Regions from separate parts of the Homo sapiens genome. Here region 1 is linked to region 2. Evidence: fine-mapped expression QTL. Tissue or cell type: pancreas. Region 2 holds a variant in brackets; the other region holds the start of a gene. All regions are shown on one strand. Distances are from middle to middle. Region 1 holds the start of SIX3 (SIX homeobox 3). Region 2 has its middle 23 kb from the start of SIX3-AS1.

Evidence for each region. PIP is the estimated chance that this variant, and not a neighbour inherited with it, causes the effect. A credible set is the group of variants that fine-mapping cannot tell apart.
Region 1: SIX3 starts here. The variant in region 2 is the best candidate, but not a certain one, in a credible set for the expression of SIX3 in pancreas (GTEx, PIP 0.87).

Annotation. Positions count from the first base shown.
Region 1 is chr2:44,939,185-44,943,431 of GRCh38, reverse strand. SIX3 (SIX homeobox 3) reads right to left here and starts at 1,730. Exons shown (of 2, transcript NM_005413.4): 1 at 522-1,730. The coding sequence starts at 1,327. It overlaps SIX3-AS1 (SIX3 antisense RNA 1), which reads left to right and starts at 1,554. Exons shown (of 2, transcript NR_103786.1): 1 at 1,554-1,722; 2 at 2,599-3,278. It overlaps LINC01833 (long intergenic non-protein coding RNA 1833), which reads left to right and starts at 4,233. Exons shown (of 2, transcript NR_147195.1): 1 at 4,233-4,247. RefSeq lists enhancers at 1-687, 1,770-2,296, 3,065-3,564, 3,565-4,066.
Region 2 is chr2:44,962,655-44,966,901 of GRCh38, reverse strand. No RefSeq gene overlaps it. Among named protein-coding and RNA genes, the nearest start is that of SIX3-AS1, 23 kb to the right of the region's middle. The variant C/A (reference allele first, on the strand shown) is at 1,936.

The sequences.
Region 1 (4,247 bases), 23 kb after region 2:
CCGGTCAGGCAACGTGCAGCGTTGCGGGGAAACAGGCCCGCTGCGCAGTGGCCTCTGGCCTTTTCCCCTTGTGATAGGGACCCAGGTTCACTTTCCTCTCTCTGACGCTAGTGGATTTCTCTCGGGGTTTTGCAACGCACAGAAATAAGAACCAGATGGCAAAGAGTGCTTTCCTTCCCTCCCTGTCTCTAGGCTCCAGAGGATCGCCGAGCTGGCGGCAGGGCTGAGGAGGCAGGCACGGGTGCAGCGCAGGGCTAAGTCTCCCAGGGGCTGCGGGTACTCGGGTCGCAAGCACACACTCTCTGCCCTGACGAAAGCCCCTCTTGGTCAAAGCAATCAATACACCCACAGCCAGCCCGGCCCCCTCTTCCGCGCGTCCCGGACAAGCGGAAACTTTCTCCGACTGGCCAGGAGTCACGGCTTCCCTGGCTCTCAGCGGCCGCTCCGCTAGCCCCATCTCAACCCCTCTCCCCTTCCCAGGCCTCTGAGGCTGTAGCCAGGCCGCGGGCCCCGCCACTAACCTGTTCTTGGCCGCCGCGGCGCGGTCGCGCTGCCGCCGGTTCTTAAACCAGTTGCCTACTTGTGTGGGAGTGAGGCCGGTGGCCTGCGCCAGTTCGCGTTTCTTGCTGGGGTTGGGGTAGGGGTCCTGTAGGTACCACTCCCGCAACAGGCTCCGAGTCCGCTCCTTGAAGCAATGCGTCTTCTGCTCGCCGTCCCAGATGGTGCGTGGCAGCGGGAACTTCTTGCGCACGCGGTACTTGTCCACCGGGCCGAGTGGGCGGCCGCGCAGCTTCTCGGCCTCCTGGTAGTGCGCCTCGAGCCACATGGCCTGCAGCTTGCCGTGAGACTCCTTGGTGAACTTGTGGTTCTCAAGGATGTGGTAGAGGTCGCGGAAGTTGCCCGTGTGGAAGGCGACCACGGCGCGCGCGCGCAGGATCGACTCGTGTTTGTTGATGGCCTCGCACGCCCCGGGGGCCACGGGCAGCGACCAGAGGAAGCGGCCCAGCCGCTCGATGTCGCCCGTCTCCTCCAGCGTCTCACAGACGCTGGCCACCTGCTCCGGCGAGAAGTTGAGGGTGGGCAGCTGGAACATGGACAACTCTTCCGGGGGGGCCCTGGAGCCGCCGCCGCCGCCGCCGCCTGCTCCGCCAGCACCGCCGCCTCCCGCACCGTTCCCGCCGCCGCTGCCGCCTCCCGCGCCGCCGCCGCCTCCCGCACCGTTCCCGCCGCCGCTACTCGCCAGAAGTATGGAGCGGTGGTGAGAATCGGCGAAGTTTGGCAACAAGAAGTGGGAGGAATAGAGGTCTAGGGGGGAGCGGAATACCATGGACTGACCTGAGAGGAGAGGAGAAAATTCAGGGAGAGGAAGAGAGAGGGGAGGAAGAGGAGGAGAGGGGCGATGAGGACCAGGAGGAGGGAGAGGAGAGGGGGGAGGAGGAGAAGGAAAGGAGGGGGGAGCAGGAGGAGGAGGGAGAGGAGGAAGGGCGTAAGGGACACCCACACCCCACACACATCCACACACACACACACCCGCGCAGCCACATAGAGAGGGAGGTAGGAGAGCGGCCCGGTGCGCGCGCGCAGAGAGAGAACCCGAGACAGAGAGGGAGAGGGAGAGGGAGAGAGGAGAGGGAGAGCCAACCACCGCCGAGTCAAGATTCAGCGATTCCACCGCAATCGCCCTAATGACAACAGCCTCATAATATCTCCCCTAAATCCACAGTGAGTGCAGCATTGAAACATTTTGTTTCGCTTTTCTATTGGTCTGTGGCGTGTCGTTGTGGCGTTGCCACGGCAACCACTGCCAATCACTGTCAGCCCTGCCAATCAATACCGAGAACGTAAGGACGGTTTTACCACTTAGCCAGAGGGCGGGGGGAGGGGGAGAGCAGGGAAGGAGGGAGAAGTGGGGGGATAAAGAGAATTTTTTTTATCTTTGCAACTCTTAATCTCGCTACCTCCCCCTCCTCTCTTCTCTCTTCTCCCTCTCTCTCCTCTTTTCTCTACCGCTGTCTCTGAGACTTCTTCTTCCCTTTTTCCTAAAGAAGTTGATCCAGAAATTCGAAAAGCCCTGGGCAGAGTTGTTGAATGGGATGTGCAATTAGAGAGGGGATTTTGTTGGGAGGCAAGAGGGTCCCCCAGGCTCCACATAGTCCAGGTCGGCAGGCAAGGAAAGACGGCTGACCAGCCCAGCGGGCGCGGTTTGCACATGGTTTGCACGTCGGGCCGCCTCTTTCTGCCTATGTGAGCACTAATAGTGGCAAGGAAGAAAGGAGAGATGAGATCATGGGGCCCACCAAGCACCGACCTTGGCCCAGCGGGCCGTGGCGCCAGCCGGGGATCCCGGATTCCGAGGGTATCTGGCGCCAGGGAGCCTGAGCCCAATTCCCAGGGTGCTGGAGGCCGCTCTTGCCTCCCCCATCGGTGCCCATGGACCGCATTCACCTCAACTCCCTCTTCATCAATTAGGCTTCTCTTTACTCCCTCCCCGGCCAAGGAGCCTCGATTTCCCCCACCACCCTGTATTTTAAAATAACAGTCCAAACAGTACACTTCTTTCCATCTTAAGAAGCAACTCAACTCTTTGTTTCTTCCCAGAATTCAGCTGCCTCTCTGAGGAGTGGTGGAGGAGCTGCGGGAGCCGAGAAGCCCAAGAGCCCTCTGGACCCAGAAAAGTCCTACAGATGCCCACTCCTCACCACACAACAGAAGGAGCTCTGGTCCTGCCTGCCAGCCCCAGAGGGCACTCAAACTTTGGAGGCCAGCCACCCGGATGAAGTGAATAAGGCCTGAAAATTGCTTGTTTGCTCGTATTGTAAAATAATAATAATTACCATTATTATTTTTAAACTGTCTAATTTCTCTAGGGAAAGTAACATCGAAAGCCTAAAACAGACGCCAAAAGGCCCATAGAACACAGAGGGCCCTCTCTGCCTCTGGCCACCACAGCCCCTAGGCCAGGCATGGGTATTTATTCTTAGGTATGTTGCTTTTAAGAAGCTGTAATCAGCATCTTGAGCCGGGCCTCCCTTTGTGAGGCTTCTGTAACTATGGAAGTGTGATTTACGCAGATTTGTCGGGGTCAGAGACGTCTTTCCCTGAGCACTGTGTATATTTAGACAGGACTCGGTTTGGTGTTAAAAAGTGTATATGTTGAATGGATTCACACACAGTAGCCAACAATGACCACATTGTCGGCCCGTGTACAACGCGTATTGAAACGCAGCGCCCAGACTTCAACTAATCTGCCCTCAATAAAGCTGAAATAATTATCCTAAGCTGCCTTTCCAGAAGAAAAATCATTGAGGAATTCAAAACTTTTTTTTTTTTTTTTTAAAGATCTTTTCTGCATTCCGATGCAGATCTGGGGGCAAGGCGCCGTGTCCACACCACTTTGGTGATCTCAATGAGGGAAGAGAGAAAGAGAGGTTGAGAGAGAATTTAAATGGGAAACCTAACGTGACTGGGGCTGTGAGTGTCCCAGCCCCTAAACCCCGAGCTGGAGCCCTGCTTAGGCCTTGACTCCCGCAGTGCCAGGCCTCTGAGGGCCGGGGAGAAGAGCAAGCCGACAAGTGCAAGCCTCCTTGGAGGATTCCGGGCGGCAGGGAGGCCCTGGGTCCGGCGAGGGGCCAATACTGGCTCACTTAGCCAGAGACAGCCGTGGGGTAGCAGGTCTTCAACACGACGACTGGGGCAGAAAAATATTCCTCCAAAGGGAAGACCTGCCAAGCCCCATTTCAGTGCTCTCTCCACTCCATATATATTTCCTCTCCTCCTGGCCATGAGTCCTTCTCCACGCAGCTGAAAGCTCTGGGCGGTCATTCACTGAGGGCCCAGAAAGAGCCCAAAGGTTGGGACACAAAAACAGACACTTCATGTTTTCTTCCCGATCCCTTTCTCTCGTAGGGGAAGGATTATAGGCTGAAGGGTGGGAGGGGGAAGGGGCAGGAGGAGGAAGCGGGGGAGGAAGGAATGAAAAAGGGGAGGGGAGTGGGTATTGTGCCGCGTGTGGGGGGAGAATTCCTACGGGTGGGTTTCCGAATATTGTGTTCAACTTTTTGAAAGCAGCTCGTGACCCCGAAACTGCATCCCCCGGAGCCGGGGACCCAGGCGCCGGGCGGGCGGGTGAACCCGGTCAGTCCCCTCCCCGTCCCCGAAACCCCCGCCTCCGGGTGGTGGCGACCTGGCCTCTCCCTGCCACTGCCCGGCCAGCCCCGGAGGGAGGCTGGGCAGGTGCTGCGGGCTCT
Region 2 (4,247 bases):
AAGAGAAAGAAAGGTGAAAGGCTGGGTCTTTTCATACAGTTTGACATTAATCCTGAGTCTTTCAGAAATGGTGAATTTAAAAAGCACTCCGCCTTGATAGTAATGAACACATTACATTTTTCTATTGATGTAATAGGTCTGCATTTGTACATCACCCAGGCAGCCCCCTAGATTTCTGCAGAGCCCAGCACTTTGCTGGCTCCCCACCACCCTCACTGAGGCACAAATGCTTGCAAAGAATGTTCCTCCCCAGGAGCGTCAGCAATGGCTCTGGCCTCTAAGTCGTCGGATGTCAGATTTCTTTTCGGAGATGATTATTTGCGTTGTCATTTATCCCGTGTATGTGGCTCAAATTTTACAATATATGTTACAATATATCCCTCTGTCCTCTGTCCTGACTACCAAGGCCAACTGAAGAAGAGGGGCCCATCTCTGAAGACTGGAAGCTGCTCCTCCAGCTGGCTTGGGATGTAGGTGGCCTTGTCTGCAAAAAGAGAGAGGGATGAAATCAGTGGGTTCTCGGGCTTTTGCAGCCCTCGATCTCCTGTGACAGACAAGAGCCTCTCTGCTGCTGCTACAGTTGTCACAGTGGAAACCCCTTCCCCAAAAGGCAAGTTGTCACCAGCCTAGCTGCCTGCATGGGGGCCTGGGTGACGAATGTCTTGCAATTATTCTTCAGTTGATGCCAGAAACAAAAAGTATATACCCCACACCAGTCCCCAGGACCCCTCTTAGCAGGGTGAGTCTTGGGGAATGCAGGCTCTGGGCCCATCTCTTACCACATGCCCTTCACCCACCCCACCCCTATTTCCCTGCAGATGAACCAAATTAAACTGAACAGCCTCAAAGGGAGAGGTTGCCAAAAGACAGTCTGAGGGGAAATGGGAAGAAGCAATCCCCCATTCTGCTTTAGGGCTGGGGACAAAAGGGTTCCTTCTTCCTTGAATACTGTTAACCACAGGCCTTTTGGGGGCCCTGCTGGAGGAGACATCCCATGGGCTCTCCCCTAAATCACATGAGATGACTCATCTCCACCCACATCAGCCACCCTGCTTTCCACACTGTAGAAACTTCTCTGTTCTTCCCAGACAACTGAATGCCAATATTTCTTAAGTTTCTTTCCTGCCAATAAATTCTGTTTTGTTCCAGGGGAAACAGGGTTCTACCATAAATGCTTTATTTGTGTGTGGTATTTACGGTGTTCGTCCACCTGTATATGGTCAGTGCTTTCCTTTTCACATCCAGCCAGCCATCCTGGGTCTTCCTGCAGGACGGACAGTCCAGAGACACTGAAACAGGCCCGTGCAGGGGATGGAGAGGATGTCCCCTGGCACTAAGACAGACCGCATTTGACCCCACTGTTCTCTGTCAGTCAATGGGGAAGGCACGTTTTAACAAGAACGGGGGTCCCTCTCAGGTTCTTTGAGGTGCCACCACTCCTGCTCTACCCACAAACCTAACACCTGCTCAATATCATGCCCATAAGCTATGAACACTGGGGACTAATCGAGAAGAGAGGTGAAGGGGAAACTGAGGCAAGGGCCAAGGCCAGGCCAGTGGGTATTGCTGCTTCCAAGGCAGCTGGGGAGGAGAGATTCCATTTCCTGAGCTAAGCTTGTTCCATTTCAGTTTGAACAGATGGAAATATAGTTCAATGTTTCAACATCATTTGCCTTTCTCGTGCTAAAATATTGATAAGTGCTGCCCGGGCTGATGCCCCCGCAGTTCCCAGCAGTAACTGGAGCATGATGTGTACTGAAGTGAGACATGGCAAAGCCTTTAACGAGTGTTTAAAATTCCTGGAATAATGCTCAACACTGGCTCAGCTCATTCGGCTCCTGAAAACTGCCCCCCCCCCCACCGCCCCCCTGTCGCCCCCTAATCGGCAGGAGGAGTGCGAGCACAGCCCGGCCCCCCTGCTGGTGGCAATTAGTG[C/A]GGCAGCTGCTCGTCTTCAGGACAGCAAACAATGCAGGGGGTGCCTGCATCTGCCGAGGCGGCTGAGCCAGGCAGGGAGGCTGGAGCACTGGGGAGGCAAGGACATGGGGAGCTGGCTCCTCCACCTGCAGGGGGCTGTCACACGGAACACAGACCCCAGGGAGAGGGAACACTGGGCGGGGCTGTCCAGAAAGGCAGATGAGGGAAGGGCAAGAAAAGGGGGAAGAACACCAGGTTTGGTGGCTCATGCCTGTAATCCCAACACTTTGGGAGGCCGACGTGGGTGGATCACCTGAGGTCAGGAGTTTGAGACCAGCCTGGCCAACATGGTGAAATCCCATCTCTACTAAAAAAAAAAAAAAAAAAAAAAATTAACTGGGCCTGGTGGTGTGTGCCCATAATCCCAGCTACTCAGGAGACTGAGGCAGGAAAATCATTCAAACCCAGGAGGTGGAGGTTGCAGTGAGCCGAGATCATGCCACTGCACTCCAGCCTGGGCGACAGAGCGAGACTCCATCTCAAAAAAAGAAAGAAAAGAAAAGGGAGAAGAAGGGAAAAGAGGAAGATGAAGAGGGTGGGGACTTAAGAAGGAAGGGGAGAGGAGGAAGAGAGGAAGTAGCCAGGAACAGCAAATCCCCTGGGAAGAGCTTGCCAAGCTCCGATAAGAGAATCCAATATGTGGCTGTAGAAAGGGAAAAAGGACCCTCAAGAGGGCCTCAGCCAGCGGCATCCCAGTCCTAAGACACCTCTCTGCAAGTTGCAGCCATGACAAAGGCCCCCAGACCCAGAGCTGAGAGGAAACCTACAGTGTGGACCTGGGATGTCACTTCCAAGCTTTAGAACAATCCAGGCTTCCCGGGCAAGGCTCTCCTGGGATCACAGTATCCCCCTTGTGGAGATCAAGTGGTCTAATTGTGGAATGTTAAACTTCTCACATACTTTAAGGTGCTGGGTGTTTGGTTCACAATTTTTGAAAACACTTGGCTGGGTGCGGTGGCTCATGCCTGTAATTCCAGCACTTTGGGAGGCTGAAGCGGGTGAATTACTTAAGGCCAGGAGTTCAAGACTAGTCTGGCCAACATGATGAAACCCCATCTCTACTAAAAATACAGAAATTAGCCAGGCATGGTGGTGGGCACACTAGTCCCAGCTACTTGGGAGGCTGAGGCAGGAGGATCACTTTAACCCGGGAAGTGGAGGTTGCAGTAAGCCAAGATCATGCCACTGCACTCCAGCCTGGGTGACAGAAAGATAATCCAACTCAGAAAAGAAAGAAAGAAAGAAAGAAAGAAAGAAAGAAAGAAAGAAAGAAAGAAAGAAAGAAAGAAAGAAAGAAAGAAAGAAAGAAAGAAAGAGAAAGAAAGAAGGAAAGAAAAAGAAAGAAAGAAAGAAAACTCTTTATAGATCTTTGTGAGATTGTTCAGAATAATGTTTTCCAGAAGGCCTATTTGAATCAAGAAGACAATGTCGGCTTTTTTCAACAGTGACCAGACTGTGAGAGAAAGCAAGGCTGTGCCCCAGAAAGCTGTGGGGTAGCCCCACTGGAAGGAATTCCAGGCTGGTGGGTGTATGGGACTTAAGTCAGTAGAACTCAGAGCCACTAACCGAAAGTATAAGCATTATTATTATACATGATTGTAGATTGATTGATTAACATTTACAACAGGAAAGAAAAAATAGGAAATCTACAATGGGTTGGAAAGCAAGACACAACAAACTCATTACTTACGCTCTCCCTCTGCCTTCCACAAAATAAAACTCAATGAAGTAATGTAAATATAACAATCTTATTTTCTGAGACCAAAAAAAGGGGGACATGTGATCTGACACACAGGATGACATTTATGGAAGCAAACAAGATGCAGTATAAAATTGAGGGTGTCAGGCCAGGAAGGTCCAGGATGTGAATACAGAGAGGCTGGGGCAGCCTGTGGCTGCTCTGATTGGACAAATCTTCATAGAGGAGGAACTGTCTGAGGCCAGGAAGTGCTGCATGGTCTGGGGGTCTGGGGAAGCTGGCAGCAGCAGCATCTTGTCCTCCATCCATAATCAGGTCAGCTGGGTGGGGAATGCCTGGCCCGGTGGCACAATGATACTCCTATCTATACACATTAGCTCCAGGCACCTTTCCTCACCACCGCGATGTTTTACCAGCTGGCCCCCGTCCAGCCACCCTTACAAGGCCAGCCAATCGTCCAAACCATTTCTATGTGGGCTGTTTCTGGGACCAGCACAGTCCCTCTGGGCTGAGGCCTTGGCAATGGGTCTGTCCCTCTGGGAAGGGGGCTCTGTCTGTGATTATTCTCCAAGTT